Linked DNA regions of Homo sapiens. The protein of the gene in region 4 purifies or fractionates together with the protein of the main gene of each other region. This does not show direct contact. Each region holds a gene or a part of one and is shown on either strand. Other genes may lie near its edges.

The links.
Region 1: the proteins of PPP3CA (region 4) and MAT2B fractionate together in Homo sapiens (co-fractionation; one large-scale study listed by BioGRID). This does not show direct contact.
Region 2: the proteins of PPP3CA (region 4) and ARHGEF1 fractionate together in Homo sapiens (co-fractionation; one large-scale study listed by BioGRID). This does not show direct contact.
Region 3: the proteins of PPP3CA (region 4) and NCAPG purify together in Homo sapiens (affinity purification with mass spectrometry; one large-scale study listed by BioGRID and IntAct). This does not show direct contact.
Region 5: the proteins of PPP3CA (region 4) and TNPO1 fractionate together in Homo sapiens (co-fractionation; one large-scale study listed by BioGRID). This does not show direct contact.
Region 6: the proteins of PPP3CA (region 4) and XPO5 fractionate together in Homo sapiens (co-fractionation; one large-scale study listed by BioGRID). This does not show direct contact.
Region 7: the proteins of PPP3CA (region 4) and PAWR fractionate together in Homo sapiens (co-fractionation; one large-scale study listed by BioGRID). This does not show direct contact.

Annotation. Positions count from the first base shown.
Region 1 is NC_000005.10:163,508,044-163,512,381, reverse strand, and holds part of MAT2B (methionine adenosyltransferase 2 subunit beta), read right to left. Parts: intron 381-4,338; coding exon 186-380; intron 1-185.
Region 2 is NC_000019.10:41,896,402-41,900,739, reverse strand, and holds part of ARHGEF1 (rho guanine nucleotide exchange factor 1), read right to left. Parts: coding exon 4,258-4,338; intron 3,426-4,257; coding exon of another isoform or gene 3,414-3,425; intron 2,795-3,413; coding exon of another isoform or gene 2,627-2,794; intron 2,299-2,626; coding exon 2,153-2,298; intron 1-2,152. UniProt on the Homo sapiens protein: Seems to play a role in the regulation of RhoA GTPase by guanine nucleotide-binding alpha-12 (GNA12) and alpha-13 (GNA13) subunits. Acts as a GTPase-activating protein (GAP) for GNA12 and GNA13, and as guanine nucleotide exchange factor (GEF) for RhoA GTPase.
Region 3 is NC_000004.12:17,820,808-17,825,145, reverse strand, and holds part of NCAPG (condensin complex subunit 3), read right to left. Parts: intron 2,164-4,338; coding exon 2,023-2,163; intron 1,500-2,022; coding exon 1,376-1,499; intron 179-1,375; coding exon 89-178; intron 1-88. UniProt on the Homo sapiens protein: Regulatory subunit of the condensin complex, a complex required for conversion of interphase chromatin into mitotic-like condense chromosomes.
Region 4 is NC_000004.12:101,095,518-101,099,855, reverse strand, and holds part of PPP3CA (protein phosphatase 3 catalytic subunit alpha), read left to right. Parts: intron 1-133; coding exon 134-245; intron 246-1,343; coding exon 1,344-1,489; intron 1,490-4,338. UniProt on the Homo sapiens protein: Calcium-dependent, calmodulin-stimulated protein phosphatase which plays an essential role in the transduction of intracellular Ca(2+)-mediated signals. Many of the substrates contain a PxIxIT motif and/or a LxVP motif.
Region 5 is NC_000005.10:72,889,604-72,893,941, reverse strand, and holds part of TNPO1 (transportin-1), read right to left. Parts: intron 4,157-4,338; coding exon 3,985-4,156; intron 2,133-3,984; coding exon 2,046-2,132; intron 804-2,045; coding exon 696-803; intron 566-695; coding exon 407-565; intron 327-406; coding exon 239-326; intron 1-238. UniProt on the Homo sapiens protein: Functions in nuclear protein import as nuclear transport receptor. Serves as receptor for nuclear localization signals (NLS) in cargo substrates.
Region 6 is NC_000006.12:43,558,681-43,563,018, forward strand, and holds part of XPO5 (exportin-5), read right to left. Parts: intron 3,728-4,338; exon of another isoform or gene 3,667-3,727; coding exon 3,567-3,666; exon of another isoform or gene 2,720-3,566; intron 2,328-2,719; coding exon 2,244-2,327; intron 1,624-2,243; coding exon 1,498-1,623; intron 1-1,497. UniProt on the Homo sapiens protein: Mediates the nuclear export of proteins bearing a double-stranded RNA binding domain (dsRBD) and double-stranded RNAs (cargos). XPO5 in the nucleus binds cooperatively to the RNA and to the GTPase Ran in its active GTP-bound form.
Region 7 is NC_000012.12:79,592,932-79,597,269, reverse strand, and holds part of PAWR (PRKC apoptosis WT1 regulator protein), read left to right. Parts: intron 1-611; coding exon 612-759; intron 760-2,836; coding exon 2,837-2,941; intron 2,942-4,338. UniProt on the Homo sapiens protein: Pro-apoptotic protein capable of selectively inducing apoptosis in cancer cells, sensitizing the cells to diverse apoptotic stimuli and causing regression of tumors in animal models.

The DNA.
Region 1 (4,338 bases), on a different chromosome or scaffold from region 4:
CGTGTCAAAATTTAACTTTAAGGTTTACATATACCATGTCATGCTAAATGAAAAAAATGCTACTGCATAATACAACTTTAGAGCTTTCAAACATAGTAATTTCCTTGAGAGCAAGGATAGTTTCTGTATCATCCAGACAACTCTTAATATTGTTCATGTATATCTTAAAATAACCTAAATCATACCTGAAAATCATGAATGATGTGATGAACTGCATTAGAATCCAACAGATTAACCTGTTCAAATTTTGGTCTTGCTCTTCTGAAACCACAGCCAACTGCATGCCAATTATTCTGCTGAAATTCTTTGTGTACAGCTCTGCCAAGAAGCCCAGTGGCACCAGTAACCAGAACCCTCCTATTAGGGATGTTAACTTCCTCCTAAAAGGTGAAGGCGGATAGAAAGAGTTACTAACTTTGAAAACAGTTCTCTCAAATATATTAGGCACCATCGTTGTTCCCTAAATGTCTTAATTCTACGTATTTTGACTCATGTCCCATATCTGCAAGCCAATTCTAAAGTTAAGTTAGGGTCGGGCATCAGGCTCATGCCTGTAATTCCAACACTTTGGGAATGCGAGGCAGGCAGCTCCGCTGAGCCCAGGAACTTGAGACCAGCCTGGGTAACATAATGAGACCCATCTCAATACAAAAAAACAGTAAAAATATACTTTGTATTTATAAAAATAAATTTTTAAAATAAAAAAAGCAGAAAACACAACTTAAAAATGTAATAAATAAAGTTAGAACAATGATTAATCAAACCATATAAAAAACTGTATCACTTAAGAAAAAGCTTTTGCCAGGCATGGTGGCCCATGCCTTTAATCCCAGCACTTTGCGAGGCCAAGGCAGGTGGATCACTTGAGCCCAGGAGTTCGAGACCAGCCTAGGCAACATGGTGAAAACCCGTCCTTCCAAAAAAAAAAAAAAAAAAAAAAAAGCAAAAATTAGCTGAGCTACAGGTGGTGCATGCCTGTAGTCCTAGCTACTTGGGAGGCTGGGGTGGGAGGATCACGAGCCTGGGAGGCCAAGGCTGTAATAAGCAGAGATCATGACATGCACTCCAGTCTGGGGGACAGAGTGAGACCCTGTTTCAAAAAAAAAATTTTTTTAATTAAAAAAGTTATAATAATCTTACCCAAGGAAAGGAACACAAGATGATATGCAAGGAATTATGTAGATTTATATTTCCTATGTTAACAGAAAATCCTATTTTTATGATTGATAATACCCAAATGAGTTAGTAAACAGCAACTTTTTTTATACTTTTGCTCCAAGTACCTAAATAGTAAATAACAACATTACATTCTTCAGTTTATAAGACTTTACAATTTGTCTTGCTTCTATAGATACGACTGAAGGTGCTCTTTGAGTCTCTAGAGAGAAACGTGTTTTAAGTTTACCTATTTTAAGGCCTGATTAGTATTTGCGTCAAATCTGCCAATATATTTACAAGCTGACATTTCTGGTCTTCAGATTTTAATCCCAAATGTTCTTTCAAGTCTCAATAATTTATCATATTTTGATGGACCCAAGGTAGAGAATTAATCAACATTTCAAAGGAATATACGAGGAGGAAAAAAAACTTGGTCCTTACAACACTTAAATGCTTTCTAAGTTTAACCAAATTGGTAAATGTTCCTTAGTTAACCCAAAATTTACCTACATAGAAGAGTTAAAATTGGCCAGGTGCAGTGGTTCATGCCTGTAATCGCAGCACTTTGGGAGGCCAAGCTGGGCAGATCACCTGAGGTCAGGAGTTCAAGACCAGCCTGGCCAACATGGTGAAACCCCATCTCTTCTAAAAATACAAAAAAATTAGCCAGGCGTGGTTGCAGGTGCCTGTAATCCCAGCTACTCGGGAGGCGAGGCGGGAGAATTGCTTGAACCCAGGAGGCGGAGGTTGCAATGAGCCAAGATGGCACCACTGCACTCCAGCCTGGGTAACAAGAGCAAGACTACATCTCAAAAAAAAAAAAAAAAAAGCTAAAACTAATAAACGCAAAGGATAAGAAAAAATATTTTAAGCTCATCTGTGTTGCTACTGTGAAACAAATAAATTATTACACACAGAAATGAAAAAGAACCACTATTTAGGAAAAAATTTAAATTCTATGTTTCCAAGCATAGTTCCAAAAATGTCCCTTCTTCCCAAGATGGGTAACACCAAGTTTCCAACCAGGATCTTGAATAAAGTCAACTTTTACTATTAAAAACAAACCAGTTATTTTAACTCAAGAGTTGTTATAATCACCTAATTCTGGGCTGTCAAAATCTTTAAATACATATACAATAACCAAAGACCTTTTAAAGCCCTTAGCTCAATTAAATTACTTAGCCGAATACATACATTTTTTTTTAAAAGACACCAAAATCAAGTATTTCTAGCAATCAAAAACGTAAAATGAAAAGACTAACAGGGAAAGATAGTATAAAGGTAAATTCTTAGGATTATTTTTCCTTAGTTCAACCAATTTCAAGACATTTTAAAAGTTGAAAGCAATTTCATTCAGGCTGTGTTGCAAAACTTGGCTCTAAACCAACTGATCTATGAAAACAAGGATTTCAGCCAACAAAATATTTTCTTTGAAATTTGGCAAGAAAACAGCTCTACAAAGATTGAACTGTAAAGAGGAGAAAACATGCCAAGTCTAGTACAGATACAGTCAGAGAAAACAATTTACACAGGATAAATACGGTAAAGATTCCTGAAAAAATACTCTAAAAGAGAGATAATTTGGTTTCTTCTGAGTTCCTCACTTTTTACTTCACTCTACGGAAGCAAAGGAACAGGTAACAGTTCCTAAGGTCAGTGGTTCTCGTGCTTCAGTGTGGATCAGAATCACCTGGAGGGCTTTTAGATCACAAAGGTCTGGGGTGGGGCTTGATAATTTGCATTCCCAACAAGTTCCAACAAGTGATGCTGATCATCGTGATTTGGAGACCGCACTTAGAGGACCAGTGTACTCTCGAACTCCAGGAAAGTTCAAAGCTTTCATAACAATCCGTTTCTCTTACACAAGGAAAACAAAAAGTGCCATCTACCTTTCTCAAAATGACAACAGTATCTTTCCCCCTTAAAAAAGAAAACTTGAAATAGAAGCCAAAGCATTATACAATCCACAAAAGTTACTAAACAATGAATTAAGATCTGTGTACTTCACTGACTCTGTGAAGTACAGTTTCATTTTAACATCTGTTAAATGAATTTAAAAAAAATCTTATGAATCGTCACAGTTTTGCAGTAGTTTTTGCTAACTTAATGCAACTTAAGAGCCCAGATGATCTTCTTTTAATTAAGAGCTTCTTGGAGTTGATGCAGTATTAAGTATAGAGAAGAACAAGGCTCTTTAGGGAATATAATACCTTAACGTAAAAAAGGAAGTGGAGTTGTATGAGAAAATGCAACTTTATATCCTTATACCCCTGGGTTACTATGTAAGGCCTCCAGTACGCCCGGCCTATAACATGTTAATTTTCAAATAAAATGTTGTGCAGTATCATTTCCATTTCAGTAAATGCTTGCACTTCAGATCGTCACTCTTAATAAAAATCTTGAGCACTGACACCTGACTGCTGGGTACTGTACACTGTTTCATATTTTTTTCTAGGTAATTTTAGGTAATCTAAGCTACTCGGGAGGCTGAGGCAGGAGAATCGCTCGAACCCAGGAGGCGGAGGTCGTAGTGAGCCGAGATCGCACAACTGCACTCCAGCCTGGGGGACACGAGCTAGACTTCATCTCAAAAAAACAAACAAACAAAAAAACCAAAAAAAAGAAAACTAACGTGTTATATAAGTATACAATCATAGCTGTTTTTGTTTTTTTAATAGCAGTTTGAGGCCGGGTGCCAGGGCTCACGCCTGTAATCCCAGCACTTTGGGAGGCCAAGGTGGACCAACCACTTGAGGTCAGGGGTTCAAAACCAGCCTGGCCAACATGGTGAAACGCTGTCTCTACCAAAAATAGAAAAACTAGTCGGGCATGGTGGTGGGCGCCTATAATCTCAGCTACTTGGGAGGCTGAGGCAGGAGAATCGCTTGAACCCTGGAGGCAGAGGTTGCAGTGAGCAGAGATTGAGCCACTGCACTTCAGACGGGGTGAAAGAGCAAGAGGAAAAAAAAGAAAACAAAAAAACCCAGCAGCTTGTTAGAAGAGATATTATTTCCAAAGAGAGTAACAAGAAGTCCAGTGTTAAATGTTTTGTCTATAGTAAAAGAGAAAAAGCTGGAACCAGAACCTGAGTCTTGCTTCTCTGGTCAAGTCAAATACACTGCATTTTGTCTCAATCCTGTGAACTAATATTTGGTTTCATGAATGATTAAAGTTTTATCT
Region 2 (4,338 bases), on a different chromosome or scaffold from region 4:
GCTGGCCAGAGTGACCAATGGTCCTCATTTGCCTGCCTGGGCTTTCAGTGATAAAACTGTGAATATCCTGAGCAAATGGGGACAAGCTAGTCATCCCACCTGCCAGCAAGCTTGCAGCTGTGTTTAGTGTCTAACCATCAAGCCACATTATACAGTGGTTGACAGCCTCAGATCCAGGGACCCCCACATCCCCGGAGGGCATATGTGTGAGTTTCAGGGGCCCTAGAAGTCCCCTGAGACTAAAAGCACGATTTTGTACATTATGCATATTCTTTCTGGGGAAAGAAATTGCTATCCTGTCCAACGTGATAGTCACCAGCCGTGTACAACTCTTTACATTTTCGTTAATTGCAATGAAATTTTAAGTCAGTGCTCAGTTGTATTTAGTGCTTTTTTTTTGAGACACAGTCTTGCTCTGTCACCTAGATTGAAGTGTGGTGGAGTGATCTGGGTTCATTGCAACCTCCATCTCCTGCTTCCTGGGTTCAAGCAATTCTCCTGGCTTACTCTCTCGAGTATCTGGGATTACAGGCATGCGCCACTATGCTTGGCTAATTTTTGTATGTTTAGTAGAGATGGGGTTTCACCATGTTGGCCAGGCTAGTCTCGAACTCCTGACCTCAAGTGATCTGCCCACCTCGGCTTCCCAAAGTGCTGGGATCACAGGCATGAGCCACTGTGCCTGGCCTAGTGCATTTCAAGTGCTCACCAGCCATAGGTGGCCGATGGTCCCCATGGTGAGCAGTACAAATAAAGCACATTTCCATCTTCCAGAAAGTCCTAATGGGTAGCACATGGCTCATGTTTTTTTTTTTTTTTATCATGTCCTTAGAAGGATCTGTGACCCAAAAAGTACTCAACTACTCCCCTAAAATTTTTGAATAAGTATCTTTTTCACTATGAAGTAATCTGTAAATAAGCTTTCAGTCAAGTCCCAAACCTTTCTCTTGGGCTAGGCACAGTGGCTCACGCCTGTAATCCCAGCACTTTGGGAGGCTGAGGCGGGCGTTCGAGACCAGCCTGACCAACATGGAGAAACCCCGTCTCTACTAAAAATACAAAATTAGCCGGGCGTGGTGGCACATGCCTGTAATCCCAGCTACTCAGGAGGCTGAGGCAGGAGAATCACTTGAACCTGGGAGGCGTAGGTTGTGGTGAGCCGAGATTGTGCCATTGCACTCCAGCCTGGGCAACAAGAGCAAAACTCTGTCTTAAAAAAAAAAAAAAAAAAAAAGCTTTCTCTTTTTGCCACCAGCCTCCCTAGCCACCACACAATTAGCAAAGGAAAAAAGGAAAAAGACAAAAATGATACACTCATCATCTCTCCACGCAGAAGCAAGCACTGCTAATATACTGATCATTCTCCCAAACTTTCCCCTGTGGGGATCTTTTCTCCCCTAAGCAATTAAGATCAAACTAGTAACAACAATCTCATTAAAATGCTCTTCCTTGACTGGGCCTGGTGGCTCACACTTGTAATCCCAAGACTTTGGGAGGCTGAGGTAGGAGGATCACTTGAGCCCAAGGGTTCGAGACCAGCCTGGCCAACATGGCGAAACCCCATCTCTACAAAGAATACAAAAATTAGCCAGGCATGGTGGTACATGCCTGTTCAGCTACTCGGGAGGCTGAGGTGGGAGGATCAGTTGAGCCTGGGAGGGTAAGGCTGCAGTGAGCCGTGATTGTGCCACTGCACTCCAGCCTGAGAGACCAACTGAGACTCTGCCTCAAATAAAAATTTAAAAAAATAAATAAAATAAAATGCTCTTCCTCTGTGCCCAGCACTATGCTAAACATTTCACACAAATCATCTCATCTTCATGACAATATCTGAGGTAGGAACTATTAATGCCCACATTTCACAAGCAAGGAAATAAAAGCTTGCACCAGAAATGCAGTGTTCTCAACATCAGCACTGTATTGCACTACTAGAAATGTTTGGAAATGTCCCTTCCACAGTGGCATTCACATTCCATCAAAATGCTCTGTGTTGAAACAATCTGAACTTGGAACAAGAGGGAATTTGAAGCTGCCTTCAAGTTCTCCCGATGGTAAATGACACCAAGATGAACATCTCTCTGCGCCTGTCTTTGCCTTTGCCAGAGCTGGACTGTGTCCTTGGCCACAGTGGGGTGATGGGGGCAGTACTCACCGCTGATGACCTCCTGCCGCTTCACCTGGCTCTTGGGCAGGCTGTGCAGGGTGTCTGGGGGGACGAGTTCCCGCCAGCCGGGAGGCTCTTCTGGTTCAAGCTCCAGTCCCGACCGCCCCGGCTCCCCCTCATCTCCAGGCTCGGGGCTGTGGACAGAGGCCTTGTTAGGGCCCCAGCTTGGGCCATCCCAAGAAGCAGCCTTCAGCCTCTTAGAGCGTTCAACCCCGGTCAGTGGCCTTGGCATTCGATGCCCGCAGGGTGGCCCGTGCAGCAGACCAGGTCTCTAGATCGGACCACACTAGAGTTCCCAGATCTCTAGAAGCATTCTACCCCCTCCTCCTCCAAGGTCTGTGACCACAGTTGGCCTCAATGACCTCGGTCTCCAACGCCCATTCCTCTGTGACTCTGACAACAATCCCTCCCTGATTCTCCAGGCTGCCTTAGTGGATGGGGGAAGGGAGAGGGTTGACATACGTGGCTCGTCGGGCAGGGCCAAGCACTGCCGTGGCGGAACTGGGGTCCATGTCCACGTCGCTCCGGGAGCGGCCCCCACCCCGGCCCTTAGCCCCGAGGCTGCCCCGGGAAGGCCGGCGGCGGTCACTCACCCGCAGGCTCTCTGAGCGCCCCAGACGCCCTGATAGCCTGGACCCCGAGGCCAAGGACAGAGTCAGGCAGATGCCGGGGACAGAGACAAGGAGAGACCAAGACAAGAACAGAGACGAAGAGAAACCAGGACAGGGACAGAGACGGGGAGAGACCAGGGCAGGGACAGAGGTGGGGAGAGGCCAGGGCAGGGACAGAAATTGGGGAGAGACGAGGACAGGGACAGAGACGGGGAGAGACCAGGACAGGGACAGAGACAGGGAGAGACCAGGACCGGGGCAAGGGTGACCAGGACAGGGATCAAACATGCAACAGAAGAGAGGAGAGAGTCAGAGGAGTGGTGGGATTTTAGGGGCACTGGGGTAGTGGGGGGTCTTGGGGGAGGGGGGATACTGAAATTTGATGGGGGAAGGGATGGGGAACCCAGGATGGAGCATAGGACTGACCCCCTCCCTTCCCTGAGGCAGGGGGATGGCAACAGAGGGGGTGTTATGGGGTGGGGAGGATTTCCATACTTAGCTCTTCAACTGGGAGGGTGATGTCCCCACCCACCCCTCACAGGGAGTGAAGGGGAGGGAGTGGCCATGGGGAGAGGGGAGGGGCTGGGAGAAATGGGGGAGGGGCTAGCCCTTCCCCCACCCAGGGCCCAGGCACCCACCTCTTCCACCTTCTGGGGAGAGAGGGGCACAGGGTCAGAGGTGGGCCCAGATGGAACCTGACCCACCTCCCCGCACCCACCAAAGGGTCCCCAAAGCAGCGGCACAAGGACGGGCAGGAGGCAGAGCCTGCCCCCCAGCTGTAAGGGGGACAGGGCCCCCAGGGCACAGAGCAGAGGGGTGGGGGGTTGAGGGACGGGCACCAGGAGGCAGGAGCGAGGCGGGGGGTGGGGGGCAGGGGGCAGGGGGGCTTGAAAGAGAAGGGGAGGAAGGGCTGAAAAAATGAAAAGTGGCAGGGAGATCGGAGGGGGATGGAAGGTGGGGAAAGAAAACCCAGGTGAGAGAGGAGTGGGGAGGAAAGAGAGGAGGGGGAAGGTGAGAGAGGAGGGGGGAGGTGAGAGAGGAAGAGGGAGGTGAGAGAAGAGAGGGGAGGTGAGAGAGGAGCGGGGAGGTGAGAGGAGGGGGTAGGTGAGAGAGGAGGGGGGAGGTGAGAGAGGATGGGGGAGGTGAGAGAGGAGAGGGGAGGTGAGAGAGGAGGGGGAAATAAAGGAGATGGAAGGAGTGGTGGAGAGGAAGGGAGGAGGAGAAGGATTAGTGAAAAAAGGAAGGAGAGGAAGGAGCAGAGGAAAAAGGAAGGATAAAAGGAAAGGGGGGCAATGAGGAAGCAGGAGGGAGATGAGAAAAGGAAAGAAGAAGGGAGAGGAATGGCCAGACCCAGAGAGCAGCAGAGGAGCATGGGGAGCAAGAGCCTGGGACAGGCAGGCACAGATGGCAGCGGTGACCCTGCACCCACCCACCAGCGCCCAGTAAGCCACACCTCCCGCCCCTGCACCCCAGCCTGGGCACCTCTCGGTTTCGGCCCCCTCGTCGGTACTCTCTGGGGGCGCCAAGGACTCCAGGCTCATTGGGCCCTGCGGGGATGAGTCC
Region 3 (4,338 bases), about 83 Mb from region 4:
ACATTTCAGAACTGCACAGCAAGAGGAAAGAATAGACTTGCCCAGCTACATTACACTCAAGCACTTCTTTCATTTAAAAGAGACTTACCTTGAGTTCTTTCTTTCTTACATCAGCTGGATCGTTATTAACACCAACAGTAACAATGGGCGCCCGAATCTCTGAGATAATTTCTGTAACCTGTAAGTTCAGAGTACATGCTTTAATATATGTTTGATATATCAGCAAATAGTATCAAAATTCTATATAAAACTCCAAGTAGTATCCACCATATATTGAATAATGGAGCAAAAACATACTGGTAGAAATAGCACACATTCTGTTTGCTAGACAATTTTAGAAAAAAACAAAACAAAACAATATATCTGACTACAAAATGAAATTATTTGAATGGAAGGGAAATAGGCACACAGACAGTGAAAGTAAATTATCCCTCATATAATGTTTGAAAAACAGAAATATGAATTATGGTGCTTAAGATGAGACACTTAAATTCTCTGCCTAAAATCCTCAACCCTTCTCTTGTTCAGCTCTGTAGGAGTTAAACACAGAAAAATGGAATATCCTTTTATTCTTCCTTTGGGTAGACAATGCATAAATAATAATAGCATAAGGAAGGACTTTCCTTTCAGAACCACTTGTATATTGGAATTGGCTGATCAGGAAAAGGCTGCCTCCCAAATGAAAGTATTTAAGCAGATGCTGAATAACAACTAAGCATGTTGTAGAAGGGGTGTATATATAAGGAGAGGATGGAAGAGATGATCTGTGAATTAACCTGCAACTGAAATTATGTGATTTTTATGAAATAAATGATACAGATCTGTCTTTTTTGGCTATGCCAGAAAAAAATAACACTGAAATAGTATTATAGTAAACAATTATTTCTGTATTTATCAAGCAATACAGAACAATACCTTTATGAACAATACCTCATTGAAAAATGAAAGGTAGATTTCATTGCTATTCTTATTTGCAGACAAGTAAAACAGCAGAATAACTTGTCCAAAGCCACAAAGCCAGAAAGTGTCAGATGAGATTCTAAACCCTAGTATGTACAATTTGAGTAAGCTCTCAAAAACACTAGCACCCAGTGCCTCATGGACAAAACCATATCCCCACTTGTAACTTCCTACCAAACCTGCTCCATTTCAAACTGATTCAACAATAACAGGTACACTAAGAGGAAGAAGGTGACATTTTTCAAATATTCTGTGTATGTAAGAGATAGATAATGGTTTTAAGAAATTTTAAAACTCATTAAAGAGACGAACCTAAAACAAAACAGACAAAACAAAAAGTTCTAAACAGAAAATAAGACAGTATTCAATGTCATTGACCAAAACCTCTTTATCAACAATGAGGAAAATTACTTACAATTTGTGTTCTCTTATTATCATCTATAATGATGTGGAGTAGTCTTTCAACAAGAAAAGAAACCAGGGATATTGGGATTGTGGGTAAAATAAGAATCTCCTGTAAAACAGCCAGCAGTTTTTTTCTGCAGTCAAAAAGAACTAATTTAAATATTATTATGACAAAACATGTTTTATCTCTAACATTCACCTACTCTGCAAACTTAATTACATTTGCCTCAGTTCTTTCACTTAGGTTTATCACTATAATAGGTACAAAAATCTGTATGTACAGACTTTAGGTCAAATATTCTTATTCCACACAAAAAAAAATTTTTATAAAACACCCTATGATTTTTAATAAATCAACATGATAAAATGACAAAATACCAGAAATGATTAAACCTTTTAGAAAATGCTACTAGCCTTAATAAATCTAAACAGAAACTTTTAACCAAAAACTGCAATTTCATTGATTTATTCTGAGGAAATTGAACTAGAAATATAAATGTATGTGTATATATGGAAATATGTAGAAGGGAAAAGAAAACTTTTTATACCACTTTAGAGAGCTAGGGTAAATATGTTTAGTTATATTGTAAAAGGACTATATTTCAATATAAGAAATTAGAAGGGCAAATTAGAATGAGTGTTAACATTTAGACATACCTTCCTCCTTCTTCACTGGTATCCAAAGACTTAATAATTAGAATCAATTGTTGACCTATGAATTCTTTTGTCATCAAATTTCCAATATAGGAAAAATCACCTCTGTGTTCTTCATTAACAACTGGAATGCTCTGGATGTAACTAAAACAAGCAGAATTAATAAAGTAGAATCTTTTAAGAAACATCAAACAAGAGTTGATTCCCACCATTAGGTCAGAAAAGGGCCATTTTCAGGTCATATTCGTCTAAATACATATCTATGCCATGTAATTTGGTCTACAAACTCAATTCTATGCCACTGTCATTAACTTTTGCAAACAAACTTATTGATGAATCAAAAGAATTTGAAAATGTATTTTCAATAATGACTCAAATTTTCTATGGGAAATTTTCAAAAGGTACATATTTATGTCTAACTGATAACTAATTATTTCAATGTCACTAGCATTCTCCCAATTACAGATGGTCCCCAATTACAGGTGGCCCAACTTACAATTTTTCAACTTTAGGATGAGTTTATCTGAGAATTAAACTCATTTGACTTATGACATAGCCCCACTTTAAGTCAAGAAGCATCTATCAAGTTCTGAATCCCTTACCCAAAAATCCAATTAGTCATAAAGATCTAATCTTCAGCCGGGCACAGTGGCTCACACCTGTAATCCCAACACTTTGGGAGGCCGAGGCAGGTGCACCACAAGGTCAGGAGTTCGAGACCAGCCTGGCCAAGATGGTGAAAACCTGTCTCTACTAAAAGTACAAAAAAATTAGCCAGGCATGGTGGCTACTGTAATCCCAGCTACTCAGGAGGCTGAGGCAGAAGAATTGCTTGAATCCAGGAGGCAGGGGTTGCAGTGAGCCGAGATCGCACCACTGCACTCTAGCCTGGGTGACAGAGAAAAACTCCATCTCAAAAAAAAAAAAAAAAAAAAAGATTTAATCTTCATCATGCCTAATTATCATTCTTTTATTTTTAAAAATTGTAACAATAGTTACACAAGTAATCCATGAATACAATTATCTTTTTTGAAAAAAATCAGAAAAATAGAAACAATTTCACAAATTTTTATTATTCTTTCTTAGAAACCCTACTAATCTCTGTATACACCACCACCATCAGCTACCTTTTATTTTAACTTTTTATTCTTACTACAGACATCACCACCCAAACTAAAGCCCTTTATAATCCTCACCAAGAAGGCTGTATATTCAGTAGCCTCTGCTTTTTGTGTGGAATAAAAAAAGCTACTTAAAAGCAGAACTAAGAATTGAAGCTTAGACAGCGAAGTGCCTTTAAGATGGAAGTAACATGAAAAACAATCCTGATCAAAAATGTCATTTAAAAAATGTCAAAAATGTCGCCGGGCACAGTGGCTCACACCTGTAATCCCAACCACTTCGGGGGGTTGAGGCGGGAGGATCACTTGACATCAGGAGTTCAAGAAGAGCCTAACCAACATGGTAAAACCCCATCTCTACTAAAAATATAAAAACCAGCCAAATGTGGTGGCAGGCACCTATAATCCCAGCTACTCAGGAGGCTGAGGCAGGAGAATTGCTTGAACCTGGGAGGCAGAGGCTGCAGTAAGCCAAGATCACGCTACTGCACTCCAGCCTGGGCAACAAAGCAAGACTACGTCTCTTAAAAAAAAAAAAAAAAAAAAAAGGCGGGGGTGACAAAAACCAAGTTACAGAAATTGTGGTATAATGTATAATGAGTATACTCTCATGTATTACAAAGTGATGACCAAGAGTAAATAAAAGCTCATAAATTTCTGGCCACAAGATTAGGACTTTTAAGACATCAGCCACCCTTTGGGTTCTAGTAGGAAACTAAGGAAAACTACACTACCGATAACTATCAAAATCAACCAATCAGTAGAGTTACTCTTTTCTGACAGGCTAAAAGAAAACCTTCATTTATACTCATCTTTGTATCTCTCCCCACTTCTCCAGCCCAGCTTTAGCAAAATGCACAGCATCTTGACTGAGTTTTTTTTTTTAAGTAAATTCAAACAGTTGTTTAATTAATAGATTAAAAATCCTCAACTGCATAAATACAACTTAAAACTGACCCACCAATTTTAGTTACCATGAAATCCTAACCATTTATAAAGACATTTATTATAATGAAGAGACCACTCAAGAAAGTATTTTAAAGTCTAAGAATTTATATTTAAGATGGCTTTCAACAAATTTTATTGTTGTCCCTTTTACTTACTCTAATTTGATAATCCTCATTTCCTCGTTTGCTCTTTAAGTGAGCACCTTGGTTAACCAAAATTGTTTCACATCAGAGTTCTTAGTCATTGAATC
Region 4 (4,338 bases):
CTAAGTTCCAGCCTTTTGGGGGACTTTTGGTCATGGTAATACATTTTATTCATGTCTTTATGATATGTGAGCAATGAAATGCATAAGTGTTAAGGAAAAATATTTATTTTTATATTATTTTTATTTTTCTCAGTGTGTGCTGTATTTGTGGGCCTTGAAAATTCTCTACCCCAAAACACTGTTTTTACTTCGTGGAAATCATGAATGTAGACATCTAACAGAGTATTTCACATTTAAACAAGAATGTAAGTATACTTCAACCTCCTTCCTTTAACACTATATGTGCTAAAAAGTAATTTTAATCAATAATAAGATACATACAATATGATCTATTGCCTAAAGTCAAAGACTTAAAGTGACACTCTTTCATATTATCCTATATTTCTTTCTAAGCATGGACATTTATGAGAATTCAGAATTTCTTTTTAAATTAGAACTTCTTTATAAAGTGATTGAAGAATTTGAATTAAGATTTGATGTAATTTATCCTAAGAAACAAGTGATTTAGGGATGCTACTGTTTGGAACAATAATTCTACTCATTAATCTCACATTACTCAAAAAACGCAAATGGAGGGCAAATTCAACCCTATGCCTCTGTTTTGGACCCAATAAATGAATACTAGCTTCTAGTGAATCTTATAAAACTGAAGATGATGTCATTCTTTAGACATAGACACTAGGAGTGTGGAGTGCTTTTTTCAATTTCTTTTTCCTCCTTACAATTTTTCTTATTATTCACTGAATCTTACAAAGGTATAAAACCTTACATTTTTGTTTTATGTATAAATACAGTTAAATGGAAGAGCTGGGAATCTCTCTATACATATCAATATTTTTCTCTTTCATTTAGTCCTATATTCAATGGAGCATAAAGACTTCTCCTCTTAAAACATTAGATATAAGTCATGGGAAAAGCAATGTGCAGTAAGATAGAAACAGCTTTAGGAAATGTCTTGCCATCTGCTTTTCTACAAAATCGTTAAGGAATATCAAGCAGCTTTATGGCTGTTTTTCTATTGGTCTTCCAGTTGTTCATGTACATTTTTTTGGTGAGACGTCTGCAGATAAATAGCCAGAATGTATATAAAAATTCTCTTGCTATACAAAACGTTATGAAAATTATAAAGTATGAATTAATAAATGACAAAAACAGGAAATACTAGATATAAAAGATTAATATGTTACTTTCAGAAAATCTTAATTATGTTTTGGAATTTTGTAGTATGTGCCTTTATGTTAATAATAGGGTCCTAGCAAGAAAACTTCTCAAAAAACCAAAACTATTTCAGTGAAATGATCCTGCCTATAAATCATAAGTATTCTTTTAATCACTTCTAAAAGGTAAAATAAAGTATTCAGAACGCGTATATGATGCCTGTATGGATGCCTTTGACTGCCTTCCCCTGGCTGCCCTGATGAACCAACAGTTCCTGTGTGTGCATGGTGGTTTGTCTCCAGAGATTAACACTTTAGATGATATCAGAAAAGTAAGTTTTGTTATTTTCCAAGTCTAATCATTTTGTGCGCTACAGTAATAAATAGAAGACATTAATTACCCTGCCTTTATCACTGACTTTATTCTTTTGAGTTCAAATAATTTAAAGTGGTCATGAATCGCTCCTTTGTGTTAAATTTTTATCTAGAAAGAGAGATATGTTTATACTTGGAAGAATTTTTATCTCTACAACCTCAGGGTTGGTCTTACCATCTGACATGTGTCTTTGGAAATATAAAATATTTGACCTCTAAAAAAAATATGCCTTATCATTTCCATTTGGCTTTTTTCAAACAATCCGTTGTATATTCATGATGTGTTATGCTAGAAATGTTGCTTTGCCCTTGGGAAAATATCATAACATAACCATTAAACTGTGCTCATTTTATGGTTTTTTAAAAATCTATTTGTTACAACTTGAGACTTTTAAGTAGCAATCTAACAAGGACAGTGATAATATTTTATTAATTTTACTGAGTGGCTGAGTGAAAAACTGGACTTTTTAAGAAGTATTTGTAAGAAGTTTTTAAGAAATACTCCAGTTTAGCATTGGCTATTAACAGTTGTTTAAACCAGCAAAAAGATGAGTTACATTGAATGTGGAAGTGGATTGTGTCTCTTTCTTGAGTAAATCTAGTAACATGGGATAGTTTTATGTAGTACAATAGATAGACAATCTTTTATTTCTTTGGTATGTTTCTAACTCTGATTGCAATGATGTAAAAGATAGAGAGTAATAAAAAATCGCAGTGTATTTTTCTTGGTGCCAAAATCGGACCAAAGGGAGAAAGTGATGTAAATGTTTTCTTAGGTCATTTTAAAATAATATTACTTGGAATTATTTTAAAGTATGATAATTTCTTCACATTGATATTTATAACATATGTTATTGAAAATTTGTGCCCACCATTAAGCTTTCTATCTAGGAAATCTAAGCCAAATTTTTTCTGGAGGAATTATAAACAGTTGAAAACTGTATTTATCTTCTTTCCTCTACTTTTAGAGACCTAAGAAAATACGCTTGTACTTATCCCATAGAACAGAGGGGTGAAAATAATTCTAACCTTTTATTATTATTCTCACCAGTAATTTTAGCAAGAATAAATTGGTCACATTGTTCTAAATTACTGTATTTGAACTATAAAGATTGGAATTTTGCTGAGATTTCTTCTAAAGATACATACTACTCAGTATATATTTAAGCCTAATGTATGATAGGTAGACTTTGGCTTCAAATAAGTGATGCACTAATCTCAAGGTGTACAGAATTTATTTCTTAAGTTATAGGTTCACTTAAGAATAACCATGGGCACAGTTCAAATTCTAGATCTTGCTTATCATTAGGGGCATTCATACAAAGACTCCCTTGGTGTCACTTGTTTGATTGATTGCCATTTAATTGTTTTTTTCCATTTCTTCTGAGTTTGGAAACTTGATTGCTAAGTCTGAGAAGTCTATATGATGAACATTTGCAAGTTAATTCTATCAGCTGCCATAAGTTATTAAATTAGTAAACAGTGTTTTCCCATTGTGTTCAGTGGAGAAGGAAAGCAAATATTTTATCTATTCATGTATCCATGTATCATATTAACCTGATAACCACTTATTGAAATAGGTTTGGAAAATGAAAAGTCAAATTACAAATAAGTATAGTAGTTTCTGTTAGCAAATGATGGGCATGAAAGACATGCATTTATGTTTTATTCTCTTGCCTTGATCAAATTTCATGGCCTTGGATGGAAGATGAGAAACTTACTAAGTGTCCTCCTTCAAAGGGGGATTAGTGAAAACTTCCCTCAAAATAGTGTTTTAATTATTTGAACAAAACTGATACACTGAATAGAGTTCTATACTGTAGAGAATAAATAGAAAGGATAAGGCTATTGTACTATTTTGTTTAAGACGCAATCACCAGCAAAAAGGTTGTAAACCTCTACTACAAAATGAATAACCATTTTCATATAGCTCTCATTTGTAGTGTTTCTTTAATACTTTTGTTAATGAAACTCATGGTTTTGAGGAAATACTTTAGTAAATTATGAATGTATTTGCATACCATAAGTCTCTACTACCATGAACTCAATATTCTTTTAAAGTTCATTAGTTTTTAGAGAAAAATTATTTTCAGGTAAAATAAAACATTCAAGTTCTTCCTATCATTGAGGTTCAAGTGTTCAAGTATAAAAATAATGTGTTTACTTTCCTATTGGAAAGAAAATGCATGCTTTTTATTTTAAAATTCAAGCGAAAGCACAATAAATAAACCTTGTTTCCTGCTCTGTGTCTTTGTGTCCATTTTTGCAAGACACTATTTCACACTTCTATAGAGCATAGAGCATTGGTCTTTGCTCTATATTTAAAGTACAGTAGAGATGTGATGCTGGTTCAGTATAAAATTGTTTCTTTCTGGGCCAAGCATGGTGCCTCACGCCTGTAATCCCAGCACTTTGGGAGGCCGAGGCAAGTGGATCATGAGGTCAGGAGTTCGAGACCGGCTTGACCAACATGTTGAAACCCCATCTCTACTGAAAATACAAAAATTAGCCAGGCATGGTGGCGCGCGCCTGTAATCCCAGCTACTCAGGAGTCTGAGGCAGGAGAATTTCTTGAACCTGGGAGGTGGAGGTTGCTGTGAGCCGAGATCGTGCCACTGCACTCCAGCCTGAGTGACACAGGGAGACTCCGTCTCAAAAACAGAAATGTTTCTTTCTGCATGAATATAACTAGCTCATTCTGTAATCTGATGGATTTTTTTTAAGTAAATAAACTTCACATCGTAAATTAAGTAGATTTTTTAAAATATCACCTAATATCCCTAGGACTTACTTCCCAGGATATTTT
Region 5 (4,338 bases), on a different chromosome or scaffold from region 4:
AAGCTTTCCTCCAGTCACAGGAGTACCTAAAAAGCTGAGATGATGGCAAGCTCAAGGAAATATTAGGGGTTCCTGCCATCTTGCCTGTTTCAATCACAGCAAGTTTACTTTAACCAATAAAGTGTACATTTATAAATGTTGGGATTCCATGCAATTTCAGTTTAATAATAAAAAAACAAAGCTGATGTAAATGTTAACTTTAAAAAACCATATTCATAGCAGTAGAAAATATTCATACCTATACAAGGCTTAACATGCTGAAAGCAAGCTTTTGTGAGGTCACCTAACAGGGCAAAAGAACTCTGTCGAACTTCTGGCATTTTATCCTACAAGAAATAAGAAGAAATTAACCCCAATGTGACACAGAGAAACAGGCTTCAATTCATTTTCACCTTTCAAGTCTCACCTGCATGCACTGATACATTAGTGTCAGGATGTTACTTCGGGCTACCAGCTGTTCAATGTTGCCTCCAAGTCCTTCAGCCAGGCCACTCAGTAAATCAAGAGCCACTATCATAAAATCTTTATCTGGAGCTTCATATTGATCTGGTTGAGCATTGTTTAGCTGAAATTAGACACAATGTTTTTTGTAAGTTTGGTTTTAATTAACTACTTAAAAAGTCTGTATACATTATACCTATCTTTAGAAAAATGTCCACCATGTCAAGAAGAGGAAGACATTTTAAAAAAATTACCATGGCTTGTGCAAGAGTCTTCTGTACTAGGTTTACACAACGCTGATACACAGGTTCACAGTACGGAAGGAATCCAGACTGCAGTGCTGTGGCAACTGAAGATAGGCACTAGGAAGAATAAAGTACACATGCTAAACTTTCTGGGTATACTGAAGATTATGATGAATGCTTGAAACTGCGCTCAACAGGATCCTGATCATTTATGAGCTTGCTCTACTAGTTTCTACAGTAGCAGGTTCCCCTCCCCCCACCCCAACCCTCTCTTTTGGAAGCCATTCATTGTTGTTAGTTTGCCAGCCAATCAGGTCAGGTTTACTCAGAGGAAGCGTTTCTACAAGAAACATTATCTTTAAAGGACAGATTGAGTATTATGTGTTCATATTTTTCCCTCAAATTGAAGAGATTCATTTCATGCTCCCATCCTGGTCAATGTTGTGAATGGACTTTACTGGGCACATTCTGAGATCCTGCCGGAAAGTAATATATATACAGTTGGCCCTCTGTATCTATGGATTCAACCAATCTTGAATCAAAAGTATTTAGAAAAACAATTAAAATGATTTAAAGTATATTGGGAGGAGGTGCATAGGCCATATGCAAATACCACATCATTTTATATAAGGGACTTGAGCATCGCTGGATTTCTGTATCCAAGGGGAGTCCTGGAAACAATCCCCTGCAGATACTGAGGGACGACTGCATACAAAAAATGAACCATAATGATTCTTCTTGTTTTGCTGGGCCCAGAATTGCTCTTGGTCATAGAAAATTTAACTTCTTTGGCTAAGAACAATCCACGGTAGAAGATGGTGAACCTTGAAATAACAGGGAGCAAGAATGAAAAGGCCTGAACTGGTTCTATCAATGTCAATTCAACTAAGTTTAAGTGACTACATTTCACAGTGTGTTCAGTTACGAGAACATCATATAAAAGTTTGCAATGAAAGGGGTGTTAAAAAAAAAAGTAGTTAAGTACACATGGAAACATTTTCAAATTTGAAAATAAGTACCTCCTTACTGGCACCAAATCCCACTACTCAACATATATGTATGAGTGAAAAGATATATATATATATCCCGGTATATATATCCTCCCAGTATGTTATCTACTCTATACTATATAGAGTAGTATGCTATCTACTCTATATAGAGAGTAGATAACATAAGAGAACTTAAAACTCTAATTTATTATCAATTAAGTAAAGCAGGTTAGAGAACAGTATGTATCATATAATTTCCTCCGTCTACTTCAGAATATAAATTTATTAACACTTTTCTTATCATATATACCCATTTTGGATTTGAACATGTGTTCTTGGCAACAGATTAAATATTACTAGCCCTGCATACCTCAAGTAAAGGGAAGAGATCTTTATCTTCATCCTTTAACATGTTCCATTTCTGGATCAGTGGAGGCATTAGCATCTGAATATATTCCTATTTACAATGATGAAAAACATATAAAATTCCACTATCACATGTCAACAAGACCATTTTGAGTCTTTGAAAATTAAAATCCATTTTGAGCAATTGTGTAAAATCATTACAAAAGGCATTTTAAGAGTCATTCTTCACTCTGCACAGTCCCTTTTAAAGTTTTCCTTTCTGTTGCCTACCTTTATACTTACATGACCGTGTTCTAGTTTTAGATCTAGAACTAGTGATCTACTGATCTTTTATCCTTGTTGAAAAAAAGAGTCTATCAATAAACACACAGCTAATCAAAATCTATTACTTAAAAAAGTCACAATCAAGGAAGATCTAAGTTTTTCTCTTTTTTTTGAGACGGAGTCTTGCTCTGTCGTCCAGGCTAGAGTGCAGCGGCGTGATCTCAGCTCACTGCAAGCTCCGCCTCCCAGGTCCACGCCATTCTCCTGCCTCAGCCTCCCGAGTAGCTGGGACTACAGGCACCCCCCACCACACCCGGCTAATTTTTTGTAGTTTTAAAGAGACAGGGTTTCACCGTGTTAGCCAGGATGGTGTCGATCTCCTGACCTTTTGATCTGCCCACCTCAGCCTCCCAAAGTGCTGGGATTACAGGTGTGAGCCACTGTGCCCAGACCTAAGTTTTTCTCTTTAAGTTACAGAATATTTTTAGTTCTGGGGCTGGGCATGGTGGCTCACACCTGTAATTCCAGCACTTTGAGAGGCTGAGGCAGGCAGATCACTTGAACCCAGGAGTTTGGGCCAGCCTGGGCAACATGGCAAAACTATCTCTACAAAAAGTTGGCCAGGAATGGTGGTACACGCCTGTGGTCTCAGCTACAGGGGAGGCTGAAATGGGAGGATCGCTTGAGCCCGGGAGGTGGAGGTTGCAATGAGCTGTGATCACACCACTGCACTCTAGCCTAGGTGACAGAGTGAGACCTTGTCACACACAAAAAAATTCCTTTTAGTCATGGAACTGTAACGTGTAATATGGCTGTTACTATATAGTACATTTTTAAATCAACAGGTAAACTTACACAGATGCTTTTGTAGAAAAACAAACTTAAAATCATTTAAGTGTCAAACTAAAGAATGATCCATAAAACGACTAAACATAGTGATCATGTAAACAGGGGCACAGACTCTAAAGACATTCAGAAAACAAACCCCCACAAAAGCCAAACCAAACAACCAACAGCAAAGCAAACCTATAAACTGCCCTGTACCAAATCTTAAGTGTAACTTAAAAATAAAACAATTTCTTAAGACTTTGGATATAGCAATCATATAGAAGTCTATTCAGCAGGGTATGTGGAGCTATATTAAAATTCTACTATCACTTAAATCCTCATTAGACAAATCCATCCTCCTCTTCTACTAACACTACTGGAAACAAGGCACTTTTGCATTACTATTTAGCATTTTTAAACCTACTACCCCAATTTCTATTTGTTTTATACAGTATACTCCCCGTACCTGCTGAAAAAACAAAGATGTCTAGATATGGTACTCTAAAGCTACAGTGTTTATGAAGTGGTAGATTCAAAAACATTAGGAATTAAGTAAAAGCAGATATCCAGATTATAAAAACTTTTTTATCCCTTTGCTTTAGTCATTCTAAAAAGTATCAGAGCATTCATGTGAAATGCTGCTGTAGTTTCCACACCAAGTATGTATTTACTTTAAGAATACCACATGAAAGGGGATATACTTGCTGCCTTTGTAAGATCTATACTCTTAAAGTAGCTAACGCTAACTATTCACATCTCCCAAAACATCTTAATTTCCAAATATATGCTAATCTATTAATTGTAACTATGCTACACATTATTTTCCCTAATAGTTCTTAACAGATACTTACTGGTTTGTTTAAATGATGTCCTACTGAATCTGCTAATGTTCCTATGGCATCGTAAAGAATGAGCAGGTTCTTATGCTGGTATTTACTAAATGCAAAGACCAGGGTATCAAGTATATAAGCAAGGTAAGGAACAAGTTCTGTACAAGCCTCCTCTTCTAGGGTAGCAAAGGCACTGTTTAAAAAAAAAAAAAAAGAATACTTATTGACTGTAAGATATATCTAACTCTTAATTGCTAAAATGTTTATGTTCTGTTTTACCCAATCAGGAATTTCCTAAAATGGTCTAAGCCATCTGTTAATGAAAGCCCTGGTCATCAGCACTGTGAATTATTTACCGATTTCTTCCATAGCACT
Region 6 (4,338 bases), on a different chromosome or scaffold from region 4:
ATTTAAGAGTTAAGCGTTTGCATGAGATATTGTATGGTAAATATCCACTTCAGTTCTATCACAGGTCCACAGTTTGCTCCCAGTTCCAGTATTCCTCAGTGGTAGAAAAGAGAATACTTTTAGTTGATACCATCCTCCAAGTTCCTCAGGGAGAATTAAATTCTTGAATTCTTTTAAGGTCCCCAGAAAAAATGACAATTCAGTATGTAGTAAGGAAGAAAGAACTGAGAGCTACTTGCCTCAAATACTGAACACTGAGAATAAACTTGTAGAACTTTGTATGTTTCATTCAGAAAAGAATTGAAGACCATGGCAGAAAATAAGAACACAGTGTGGCCGGGTGCGGTGGCTCACGCCTGTAATCCCAGCACTTTGGGAGGCCGAGGCGGGTGGATTGCCTGAGCTCAGGAGTTTGAGACCAGCCTGGGAAAAACAGTAAAACCCTGTCTCTACTAAAATACAAAAAATTAGCCAAGTGTGGTGGTGGGCACCTGTAGTCCCAGCTACTTGGGAGGCTGAGGCAGGAGAATTGCTTGAACCCAGGAGGCAGAGGTTGCAGTGAGCCAAGATCGTGCCACTGCACTCCAGCCTCGGTGACAGGGTGAGACTCCGTCTCAAAAAAAAACACAGAACACCAGTGTGTGCTATGTGCTAGGCAAATTCCTTAAGAAAATAAGGGGACCCTTGAATGTGCACCATTCTCTGATGTTACAAATTGAGATTAACAATCTGTCAACTGCAAGAGCTCTTAGCAGGGAATTCATGAGCAACTCTCTACTGAGGTAGTGAGCAATCTTTGCTTCCACTCTCACTCCCCTCATTTCCCTTTGTAACTCTCACTTGGCCTCCAGAAGCAATGCTTAGATATTGCCTCCTCTTGGAATCTTCCTGACTCAACCCTCCTATGTACTTCCAAAGCATTCTGCTTTTAACCCCTGAATAGCAATTATTACATTGTATGGTCACTGCTCTTGCCCTAGCACCTAGCCCAATACTTATGATATATTAAGTACTCTCATATGGAAGAGCAGTTATAATAACCAGTAAGGACTGATTTCTTCCTAAGGAATAAGAAAATATGTCCAGTAAAGGAATCTTAGTGATGAAGAAGGGCTGTTAATAATGCCAATCAGTCTTTTTTATGTTTCCCCCGAGACAGGGTCTCACTCTCATTGCCTAGGCTGGAGTGCAGTGCTGCGATCTCAGCTCAATGCAGCTTCAACTTCCCAAGCTCAGGTGATCCTCCCACCTTAAGCCTCCCCAGTAGCTGGGTCTACAGGTGCATACCAACATGCCCTGCTAATTTTTTTGTATTTTTAGTAGAGACGAGGTTTTGCCATGTCGCACAGGCTGGTCTCCAACTCCTGGGCTCAAGCGATCCTCCCGCCTCAGCCTTCCATAGAGCTGGGATTATAGGCGTGAGCCACCGCACCCAGCCTCAAAGTCTTATTATGTGTATTCACCTACATTCCACATGTTTAGATTCCCATTATATACCTTGACCAAGTTAGTCATGGAAGCACGAAGATATTTTGGTATTATTGCTAATAGCAAAGGATCACGGGACAGGATTTCATGCCTGAAGAGGGCTCCCCAAGTCATCTGAGTTGAAGAGCGTAGAAACTAAAGAGAAAAAAAAAAGAAAACGTCAAAGGATTTGGATTCTATATAACCCAGATTATTACTTAGCAGTTATCAACTACATTTTTTCATAGAAATAAATCTGTACAATACTTTGAAGCTGTCTCTACTGCAATTTATCAGTAATGACCACCCACTATGGACCACATGTTAGTAAGACAGGCTGTGGATCAAGGAAATTACCTGGAATGTGAGCTGAATTTTACTACTTTCTCTTCTTTGCAAAAAAGGATACTGGAATCTCAGAGTGATATTAGAAGGACAATTTTGAACAGAGTGAAATTAATTTTATAATACAATTAATCAGACTTTTGTTTCAAAAATCTTTATAACTTTAGTACTAAACCACCTGGGACACACCTCACATGTGACTGAGTACAATCAGAATATTACCTAAAGGGAAAAGCTGCTGACCTAGACAAGTGCACTGTTTGGCTCAGGAAGAAGAGCCAATAATTCTCTTAATGAAATGACACTACGGTCATTCCCCAAGGCCTGAAGAGTCACATTTTATACATGATCTACAATAATATTTCAGGACACAGTGCTTGACATTGGTTCACCTAACTAAACTTTTGAGAAGTTACCTGTATAAAGTTTACCTGACTTGGATGGGTTGTGAAAGCAAGAAAAGATTCCAGGTATTTTCCAAAGTTTGATGGTGTTTCTACATCAGAATCTGCACCCTGTAGGAGAAGACCACTATATTAACGGTGTTGATCGAGAAAAGCAGGAGAGGAAAAAGCAGGGAAGTAATAAAAACAGATAAATTAAACCCTCAAAAAATGTTGTTTCAAAAGGACTTTGTATTTCCTTTTGGCTAAAGAAAGGCATCACTTCAAGGGCTAAAATATAGGTTACTTTGCCTACTCAATCATCATCATTACTTTGCCTACTCAATCATCATCATTAAAACCCATTCTGTGGTCAAACAGTAAAATAAAAAACACTCATTTCAGAAATTACAGAAAGAAAAAAAATCTGTATTACTTCCTCAGACCTTACCTATTCACATCTCTGTGTCCCAACCTATTACCTAATCCCTTCAATAGTTTCTTTTCTTTTTTTTTTCTTTTAGATGGAGTCTCACTCTGTTGCTCAGGCTGGAGAGCAGTGGCACGATCTCGGCTCACTGCAACCTCTACCTCCAGGGTTCAAGCAATTCTCCTGCCTCAGCCTCTCGAGTAGCTGGGATAACAGGCATGCACCACCACGCCTGGCTAATTTTTGTATTTTTAGTAGAGACAGGGTTTCACCATGTTGGCCAGGCTAGTCTCAAACTCTTGACCTCAGGTGATCTGCCCACCTCACCCTCCCAAAATGCTGGGATTACAGGCATGAGCCATTGCACCTGGCCCCCTCAATGGTTGCTTATCTCTGAAACTATCCTCTCTAACCATTTAAACCACCACAAAAAGATATAACATCAATTGCAAATGTCTGTTCCAATGTCCTATCTTCCAACTTATAAGACTGAGTATTAAATATTTCTCTAATGGCAGGTTTTCCAGGTCAATCAGACTCAAGTTTTCTTTTGTGCTCCAATAATACATCCCTTAGATTGGGAAAAGAGTTCTTTATTCAAGTCCATGTTTCGTGGGCTAACAGAATGTAAAAGCATAAAGCACTCAGCAGATTGAGGTTCTGTAAGTACCAAAATTCACAAGAAACCAACGTTGACTTTATGGAATAATAGACGTGGATATCTGACGTTGGTATAACTATTTTATTGTTAAAAGAAATTTAGATCACTCAAACACTATTCTATTAAGATAATTTAATCTATAGAATCATGCAATAACTTGTATGGCACTGCCCCATCAGGCTAAAATCAATGACATTTGCAACCCCTCATTGAAACATAAGTTTCTAAATGCTCTTCCCAAATGGGCTTGAAGCTCTCCAGAAAGCAAACACTAGCTCACCAGCAATGCACACAGCTGATTGCCCAGCGCACACAACACCTGACAGAGCCTCTTCAGAAAGACGTAGTGTTTTTCTACCAAACCTCCTCCATCAGCAGTCCTGTAAGATGAGAATTCCTTATATCACCAACAAAATTAAAAAGGCTGTAATAAAAACATCACTTTGTGTCTCATTTCTCCAAGTCATTTAGTTAGGTCTGTAATTCAGCAGAATTCCAATAGCTTTGCTAAATTAAAAATTTTTTAAAATCTTTTTAACTTATTTGGTGGCAAAACCTGACCTAAAATGATATAGGACTATTCACACAAACAGCAATTAATAACTATGAGTGTGAAAAGCAACTATATTAGCTGTCTTCTGGAGGAGGACAGTATCACATAAAAGGCAAGGACCTTGGGGTAAACGAGGCCTAGGCTTTAGGAACATTGAAGGACAGGATGGTATTATGGTGTCCAATGCAATCTCTGGAGTTTGACTACCTGGGTTGGAATCACCGCTTTATGAACCATGGTTGTGGTATGGCACCCACAGCACAAACAGAAACGGGACACCACTTAGTATGAGTGTCATGATGTCTATGGAACTAAGAATTGGACCTAAAAATAGTAACTACCCAAAAAACGTTATTCATTTAATTAACAGGATCCCTTAAAACAGTGCTGCAGTCTCTACAGGGAAGGAAGCCATGAAAAATGTGTATTAGAATGGGTAGTAAGAGATTTTAAGTAAAACACATGTGCCTCATACCTTTTCATTTCTCCTTGGGACCAA
Region 7 (4,338 bases), on a different chromosome or scaffold from region 4:
AACATGGTGAAACCCCGTCTCTGAAAAAAGAAATACAAAATAATTTGCCCGGTGTGGTGGCCACATACGTGTAGTCCCAGCTACTCAGGAAGCTGAGGTGGGAGGATCTCTTGAGCCCAGGAAGCCGAAGCCACAGTGAGCTGTGATTGCACCACTGCACTCCAGTCTGGGTGACAAGAGTGAGACCCCATCTCAAAAAAAAAAAAAAAAAAGATAATCTGGGAGATCTGTCCTATCGTAGTTCTCATAGTATCCATCACTGACCTTATTTTACTGATCATCTTGCTTTATTATTAGTTATATTCCCTTTTAACCAAAAGCTCTATGAAGGGCAGAGTCCATGTTTGTGTTTGCTGTTACGTCTTCAGTATCCAGAACAGTGTTCGTTACTTAACACCTATTCAGTAGATATTGGTCGAAAGAATTAATGGTACTTTTACATTTTTTTCATTGTGTGGGAATAATGATTAACTTCTACAGTTACAAATAAGTTGCTACTATAACCATATGTCCTTGGGGAATGTTAATTTTTTTAAGCTCAATAGAAAATATTCTTGGCATTTTTCTTGCTGAATACTAGGGATTTTAATAAAATGTTTATATTTCCACAGCACAACCAGTGTCTCTGAAGAAGATGTCTCAAGTAGATATTCTCGAACAGATAGAAGTGGGTTCCCTAGATATAACAGGGATGCAAATGTTTCAGGTACTCTGGTTTCAAGTAGCACACTGGAAAAGAAAATTGAAGATCTTGAAAAGGTATGGATTATAAGTTATTTAAGATTGATAAAATTAATATACCATTAGAATTCTTTTGTTTCATAGCAACTGAGTGAGAAAGGAAATAATATTCCTTAATATTTAATATGTGCGCTTTTCTGCCAACTGTTACCTTTAGTATATTAAAAGCCCTTGTTTTTGAAGTGGTTAGAAGTCTGAGCTGGCAAATATATACTACTGTGTATTTATTATATTGTCTGAATAGATTTTCATTTGTAACTTTACAAATTACAGGAGTAAATCTGAGTTAGGTCCATCTTTGGTGTTTGAAACAATTTTGTCTAAGAATATGCCTGTTTAAAAGTGTCTTTCAGTGCAAGTCAGATGACTCTTGGCATAAATTTATTAACCATAGGGTCTCAGGTTTGTGCCATAGACATTCAACCCCTAAAATTAGCAATGGTGTTGAATACTTTTGTAATTGTTGAAAATGTGTTTTGTTTTACTTGAGATTATTCTCTATATTATTAAAGATCTAATTTATATATGTTATGTAAAGAAATTTCATTTTTAAAACTTGTTTCTATTTTATAACATTTATGATTTTTTGAGGTCACATTTCTAAGCTTTAACAACAGTTTCTTCTTGGAATTATTATTTCATAGTTTTATTTATTTTTATTTATTTATTTAGTTTTGAGACAGAGTTTCGCTCTTGTTGCCTAAGCTGGAGTACAATGGCTCAGTATCGGCTCACTGCAACCTCCACTTCCCAGGTTCAAGTGTTTCTTCTGCCTCAGCCTTCCAAGTAACTGGGATTACAGGCATGCACCACCAAGCCCGGCTAATTCTTTTTTTGTATTTTTAGTAGAGAAGGGGTTTCACCATGTTGGTCAGGCTGGTCTTGAATTCCTAACCTCAGGTGATCCACCCGCCTCGGCTTCCTAAAGTGCTGGAATTACAGGCGTGAGCCACTGTGCCCAGCCTATTATTTCATAATTTTAAATTAAAAAGTTTAGACAATATGTAATCTAATAGTTTTGAAGATAGTTGCCCAGAAAGGCTTCGTGAGTTCCACAAGAGTTTGGATTGAATTGCTAGTAGTTGGCAGCAGCTAAGGGATATGGATGGTTGATTGCTCTGTAGGAGGTTTAGTAAGAAAGAAGCCAAGTTCTGGGCAAGGCCTTTTGAGCTCTGCTTCCCTTTTGCCCCCAAGGTGGCTGACCAAGCCCAGTGCCCTGGATTCTAAATAAGATGTCTTTGAAAAAGATGTTGCATTGTTTAAAGAAAAAAAAAATTAAAAATCAGTAATCTATTTTAGTTCCTTCTTTTTATCCATTATCAGTTAACTGGCAGAGCCAGAAGTAAAACTGAGGACCATTGTTTTTCTGTTTAGAGTTTCTATTGGGCCATCTCCTTTAAACTTTGTATTTTTAAGAAAAATTAATTTTGAATTATTTCAAACAAGATACCCATTAAAAAATAAGGTAGTTCATAACTTATAGTGGTGATAAGCTAAATAAGTTAAATCACAGGCCGGGCACAGTGGCTCACGCTTGTAATCCCAGCACTTTGGTAGGCTGAGGCGGGCAGATCACTTGAGGTCAGGAGTTCGAGACCAGCCTGGGCAACATGGCAAAGCCCCATCTGTACTAAAAATATGAAAATTACCCAGGCATGGTGGCATGCACCTGTAATTCCAGCTACTTGGGAGGCTGAGGCAGGAGAATCGCTTGAACCCAGGAGGTGGAGGTTGCAGTGAGCCAAGGTGCCATTGCACTCCAGCCTGGGTGACAAGAGTGAAACACTGCCATACATACATACACACACACACACACACACACACACACGAGGTTAAATCATTGAGTCTATTACATTAGTTTTGTTAAAGACTTGTATAAACATAGCTTTACTCAGGAGCATCCTAATATCTCCTGTGCATTCTCTGATTCCTTTTGTGGTGGGATCTTTGTTCCTTCACCAAATGTCTTAAGGGATTCATTGGAAATCTTCATGTATGTAAGATATTTTACCAAATTGGGGAGATATATGCCACTTAGGAAGATTATAAATAAACAATTACTTCCTAATTACTGGTTTTTAATTGTATCTACCAGGAAGTAGTAAGAGAAAGACAAGAAAACCTAAGACTTGTGAGACTGATGCAAGATAAAGAGGAAATGATTGGAAAACTCAAAGAAGAAATTGATTTATTAAATAGAGTAAGTATTTCACCATATTTCAGGTTTGGAGGGGTTTTTTTTGGCAATTGGATGAAAATATATAAATATGAAGAAATTATTAATTGCATTATTCACTTTGTTCTTTTGTTAGTGAAATAATAATTAGTAAGAGGTATCATTTTCTTCCAAAAACTGATTTCCTTTGGGCAGTTATCAGTTTAGCTCACTTAATTTTATTCTTTTGGAGATAGACTGATTTATGGATTTGTTCTCTGTTTTGTTAAAATCTGAGGGTGACAGGCGCTTTGTCACTACCATATGTAAGGGCACTGGCACAGAGTTGCCTCAAGAAATATCTAAAATTGGCCAGGCGCTGTGGCTCACACCTGTAATCTCAGCACTTTGGGAGGCCGAGGAGGGCGGATCACGTGAAGTCAGGAGTTCGAGACCAGCCTGGCCAACATGGTAAAACCCCGACTCTACTAAAAATATGAAAAATTAGCTGGGCATGGTGGTGGGCACCTGTAATCTCAGCTACTCAGAAGGTTGAGGCAGGAGAATTGCTTGATCCCAGGAGGCGGAGGTTGCAGTGAGCCAAGATTGCGCTGCTGCACTCCAGCCTGGGCAGCAAGAGTAAGACTCTGTCTCAAAAAAAAAAAAAAAAAACCCTAAAATTGGTACTCTTTATTATTATTATTATTATTTTTTGAGAAGGAGTCTCTCTCTGTTGCCCAGGCTGGAGTTCAGTGGCGCGATCTCAGCTCACTGCAACCTCCACCCCCCGGGTTCAAGTGATTCAAATTGATTACATCAAGATTTATTATTTTAAACTGCAAGAATAAATCTATAAATGTCTGCTTTTTTAACAGTAAAGAGTCTGTCTTGAAATAATGTTTCTTGTAACTAAAACTTATGGTGAATTTGTTTTAACCAGATGGTTGTGTGTTTGGGACAAGGATTAATACAGGGAAAAAAGAGCTGGATCATATGCTTTTAAAGCTGGAGAGCGAATACTTAATTTAGTGGCTTTGAATTAATTTTAGCTCTAAAACCTTTCCTTCAAAATGTCGTAGAAAAGTCCAACATACAAATTGATCTGGAGCTGAAAACAAAATTGATCCAGATCAAGATACTCCAGATCCCCTTTTCCGTAGGCCTCAGTTTTGTCACCTCTCCAGAGTGTTATCCCCATTGTACACCTTTAAAGATCAGACAGTGGTAGGAGTGCATCTAGAACTTGTACCTGCACCTTTTGATGACTAATTTGACACAAGGTTGCAACCTAGGGCTCAATACCATATATGGCTTGCATGGGTAGTTTTTTTTTTTGCCTCAGTTTTAGGGAGGGGAAGTGGAGTTTGTTTAGCTAAAAAACTAACTTATTTATGATGATTGAAAATTGGAAGATTCACAATTTTAAAATTCTGACTTTCGGC